Regions from separate parts of the Homo sapiens genome. Here region 2 is linked to region 1. A link means that fine-mapping ties the variant in region 1 to the expression of a gene that starts in the linked region. Tissue or cell type: thyroid. Region 1 holds a variant in brackets; the other region holds the start of a gene. All regions are shown on one strand. Distances are from middle to middle.

Evidence for each region. PIP is the estimated chance that this variant, and not a neighbour inherited with it, causes the effect.
Region 2: it holds the start of ADGRF5, and the variant in region 1 is the best candidate, but not a certain one, in a credible set for the expression of ADGRF5 in thyroid (GTEx, PIP 0.54).

What each region holds. Positions count from the first base shown.
Region 1 is chr6:46,968,002-46,970,693 of GRCh38, forward strand. No RefSeq gene overlaps it. Among named protein-coding and RNA genes, the nearest start is that of ADGRF5, 47 kb to the left of the region's middle. The variant T/G (reference allele first, on the strand shown) is at 1,431.
Region 2 is chr6:46,920,766-46,923,457 of GRCh38, forward strand. ADGRF5 (adhesion G protein-coupled receptor F5) reads right to left here and starts at 1,173. Exons shown (of 21, transcript NM_001098518.2): 1 at 948-1,173. LOC105375080 (a long non-coding RNA gene) reads left to right here and starts at 1,314. Exons shown (of 3, transcript XR_001744147.2): 1 at 1,314-1,670.

The DNA of each region.
Region 1 (2,692 bases):
CTACAAGTTACTTTCAAAGCAAACCCTCAATTAGGTTTTGATTGAATAACTGTGGACTATAGACAAGCCAATTTCACTTATAAAACTGACCATTGTATTAATAAACTGTTAAAATATGTTACAACTACCTACCTTGACAAATATACCATCATGACAATATCAAAAGGTATGTGTTAAGCAGTGGTTAACTAAATGACTTATAAATTGGCAAAATATCAAAGATGGCTTACAGTGATTATTAATTGACCATTTCTGCTTGTTCTCTTAATGAACCAGGGAAGTTTGGATGATTAGTAAACTGAAGACAGACATAATTTATAAACTATACATTCATTTGTAAAATTTATTTTTCTTGCTTGAATTTTAACAAAATTACTAATAATGCTATTATAATCAAGATCTTGTTCTGTTGATAGAATGCCAATTTAAAAAGCCTTTCTTGTGTCATTACAGAATTATAATTATAATTATAGAATTATAATGACACAAGAAATTGTAACAATTATAGAATCGTCAGTAAATGCTCTAAAACAGTAAACTCAGAAATAGCCATAAATGTTACATATCTTGTGTACATATTATAATAGAATCACTTGTGATAAATTAGCATTATCATGAAAAATACCGTGATTTACAATATAATTGTTATCACATATCGTGATTTTAACTATCTCTTAAAGCAAAGTTTAGATGCATGGTAATATTTTTAAAATGTCTTTCAAGTTTTTTGAAGCTGGAATAGTATAAAGAAAACTGAAAATAGCACTATATTGCAGCATTTGTTCAAATTTCTCTTCAATAGACAGCATACGTTGATCTACAATGACCAGAAAACAATCCTTACCAAAATTTCTTTCAGGATTATTTGTGTGTGGATCTCCTTTTTATCCATGTACATATTTTTTTTTCTTGTTCTAATTAACTTATATTTTATTGGAATGTTATTTCATTGCACATATCACATGCACTTTCTTTTGATTTAGAAAAATGTTTTAAAAATTAAAAACATTTGTAACCTTTTTATAAGTAAAATGGCACAACTCAGATTTTTATTTTTGTAAGATTTTGTCAAAAAAAAATGCATTCCAAATAACAAAAAAACATGAGCCACTCATGTTCAAAATTAATTTGATTTTCTGTTGAAGATCATAATTTCCTGTTTATTTGAAGCTCCTCTATTGTTTTACTTAACTCTTCAATATATCTGATATCTTGCCTGAATTAAATCTAATTGCCTTAACAGCATTCAGTCAGCATTGCCATGATGTGTCAAAGGATGATTGGGTGGCCAAAATTGATATTAGTTTCTTTAGTTTTTCATCTTTAGGCAGATAAAGACAATATCATACATAAGGCTTGGAAGTGTTCCACAGAATACCGTAGTTATAAAGAAGTTAAGCATTTGTCTCCTGGTAACAAATTCAAACTAT[T/G]TTGAGTCATCTGGCTTGTTGGTTTTTTCTTCAACAACCACCTGAGCACAATTGTTAACAAACTTTCAAATCAATGCCTAAAATTGAAAGTTGTTTCTTCATCTTTTCATAAAAGTGAAAATTCTTACTTTTTACAACAGATGTAAAAACTAATGAAACATTTGGAATTTTTAACTTCCTTGTTTCTTCATCTTGTAGTTTTGAATACTTTGCATGATAAAAGTTGGTGTATAATGTGTCTTTTATCACTGGTAGAATCTAGTTGACCTTTACAATTTTTATGTATTAAATATTCTTATTTTATTACTCATTATTAACAATTTCTTTTAAAATTCTTCATTCTAGATAGTGATCATTTATTTCACTTTCTTTTGATCTCTCTTATGTGTTTGGCCATTTTAACATCAAATTTCAAAAGCATTTCTACTTAACCTAGAAATTTTCCATTGTTTTCTGTAAATATCGTTCTGCTATTGCCACAGAAAACATCATTATGCTTAGGTACATACTACACACAATAATATTCTTTTGAAAAAAATCTCACCTAATGCCCAATGTTCTATTTCAGTGTTTAAATACTATTGACTGTTTTTCATTTATTCAGCTTTTTTTCAGTTCTAATAAAAATCACTATTTGCTTTTTTTTTTTTTTAATGCATCTTGTATGCTCTTCTTATTGACAGTCTAAGAGTTTCCATTCACAGGTATCTTCATTGGCCAACACTGATCCTGAAAATAGATTTTAAAATATATACCAGTAGTAACAAAACATCTTGTCTTTCATTTAAAATATAAAAACCAATTTATTAGTTGAAGTTTTATTTGCTTTGTTAAAACATCCAGACTGGGCATGATGGCTCACACCTATAATCCCAGCATTTTGGGGGACTGAGGTGGGAGGATCACTTTAGGTCAGGAGTTCAAGACCAGCCTGGCCAACATTGTGAAACCTCGTCTCTACTAAAAATACAAAAATTAGCCAGGTGTGGTGGCGAGCACCTGTAATCCCAGCTACTTGGGAGAATGAGGCAGGAGAGTCCCTTGAATGCAAGAGGCAAGAGGTTACAGTGAGCCAAGATAGTGCCACTGCACTCCAGCTTGGGTGACAGAGCAAGACTCAATCTCCAAGGGGAAAAAAAAAAAAAACCAGAAAACTTCCGTGCAGAGATCCTGCAAATTAAAATTTTTTAATGGGCATCTTTAATTTGATGTCTTGAGATCGAGTCTGATATTTATATTTGTAAATAAATGTATTCAGAAGA
Region 2 (2,692 bases), 47 kb before region 1:
GGCAGGAGGATCGTTTGAACCCGGGAGGCAGAGGTTGTAGTGAACCAAGATCGTGCCACTGCACTCCAACCTGGGCGACAGAGCAAGACTCCATCTCAAAAAAATAAAAATAAAAATAAAATCTATTTAGAGATATTCTTTTACGATAAGAATATAGTCAAGTATTATCTGTGTAATTCAAAAATAACCTACATTGAAAAACCAACTACGTTAGCCCTTTATGAAAGAAAAAATGCTGTAGTGAAGTGGCATGACCTGGCTTTCTGAAATATGAGAAAACATGGTTTAAGCAAACCGCACATCATAGAGTTGCTCCTTTCAAAACAAGTCGGCCTGGCCCTGAAGCCCCAGCACTTTTACTGACCTCCTTCCTAATGCTGACTACAAACTCCTTTCCCCTCAGTCCTGTGTGGGAGGCTGCAGCCTACATTTTACATTTCTAAGGTCATCCCTTGTCCTTTGGAAGGACTCTCCCGAAGCTGAGCGAATAGCCAGGGCTCCCTCCTCCTGCTACTGGGATGCAGCCTCTTCCTTCCTCAGCCTGACCACAGCAATGGCCGACTGGCCCTGAAATGCTCTTGGCAAGAGCAGCAGCTCAGTAGCTCATGAATGCACTGGTTTTTATAGTATTTTCTGGTTTAAGGACGAGAGAACTTGTTTGAAAAAAAAAAAGTCTGTTATTAAGAAAATCCTAAAGGATCCCAGCTAGTTGCTTGATACGCCATCTCCTTTAATATAGTCTCATTAACTGGACCAACAGTATGCACAATGCTCTTGACTGGACATACTTAACTTTCCCAACATACATATCACACCTACGCAAAAGAAAAGCAGGCAAAGAGGATCGTAAGTGGAAGATGTCTTAAGAGAAGTGACTTAGGAGCCCCTGAGGTCTTGCTACAAAGGGAGACAGAATGACAGACCGCAGTAGGAGAAATGTCTGTTACCTGTCCAGCACTGTGGTCCCCCGGCTGGCTCCCGCTCTGATCAGATGCCTAAAAGCTTCCCAGTTTCCACTATGGGGCCATTTGTCCTGGGCCTCCTGGGCAGGGGCTCTCACGCCCAGTGGAGGGAGAACCAAGCAAGACTCATTTCGCGTTTTCAGGCAGGACTGGCAGCACCGCTCCCACGCTCAGCCTCCCCCAGCTATGATCCTCCCAGTCTCACAGAGTCATCCCTGAGAGCCGCGCTGCTGTTTTAAAAACAAAAAGTGATTTCCTGGTCCTCTTCCCCGGATGGCGTGTGCGATTTCCCTCACGCCCATGGGAAGTCCTTCAGATCCTTCTTATCTGGAAACCTCTCCACCAAGTGGACAGACTTGTTTGGCCAATGCCCCTAGTTCTCACTTTTCTTTCTCCAAAGAAAAAAATCAGAAAAGCAAAACCAGAGCAAACCAAACATAGGTTAGAGCTAATGAGAAGTACAGGATGTCTGGTTTCAACTTTTAAAAGATGACCACTAAATTAGATTGTAACTTCAGAGAGGAAGGAAAATTAAGACTATCGATGAATTCTTTGTCTTTAGCAGTGCCAAGAAAGCAGAGAAAAAAAGAATCCGCAGAAGAGAAGAGACCTAGAGAAGTTGCTTAGTCCTCCCCCGCGGGAGGGCTGTACCTCAAAAATGCCATATTGGAGGGACGTCCAGTTCTCCTAGGTTTCCAGGGAAACTCTGTGAGTATTTGTGTATCAAACTATAAATTTAGTGGTACTTAAAATACCGCTCAATAGCATGGATATTTAAAGATAAGGAGATATATGGTAAAGGCCTGGTTGGCAGGCTGCATCCAGGTTGCTGGGTTTAAAGATGAATTATAGTCAGCTCATTTTTGAACTGGAAGTGACCTCACTGATCCTCATTTTACAAAAGAGGAAACTGAGGCCCAAGGAGAACCCTTCCCAAGGTCAGAACACGGATGGGGAATGCTGTTTGACTCTCTACTCTGGAGCTCTGCCCACAGAAAGTTTGATGAATGAGGCCTGGCTTGGAATCGGCATTGGAAATAAGTGCTTCGGGTGAGTCCCATGCAGGTAGTCCCAAGAGTATCTTCAGGGAATTCCTCATAGTGTCAAAGAAAGGACTCTGGAGTCAGACTGTAGGAACTGATGCTTTAGTCCCACCAATTATATGTGGCCGGGTACACATTACTTGACCCTATTGAGATTCAGTGTTGTTTTGTTTTTAGACGGAGTCTCGCTCTGTCTCCCAGGCTAGAGTCCAGTGGCGCGATCTTGGCTCACTGCAACCTCTGCCTCCTGGGTTCAAGCGATTCTCCTGCCTCAGCTTTCCCAGTAGCTGGGACTGTAGGTGCCTACCAGCACATCTGGCTAATTTTTGTATTTTTAATAGAGACAGGGTCTCTCCATGTTGGCCAGGCTGGTCTCAAACTCCTGACCTCAGGTAATCCCCAGCCTCGGCCTCCCAAAGTGCTGGGATTACAGGCGTGAGCCACTGCTCCTGGCCCTGAGATTCAGTTTTATTGTGTGTGAAAGTGGGATAATAATAGTACTGAGTTTATAGACTCTGCTGAAACTGAAGAGGAAGAGTTTAGTAACTGTTTGTTGTTCTCTGGAGCCCTGGGCTCCAATGCCTCCAAGTTCATCCTCTCTCCCCTCCAGCTGCCTTCCCTTCTTGTCATGCTATCAGCCTGTAGCAAGTCAGCAACCACCAGCAGGACTTAGGCTTGAGACCAGAG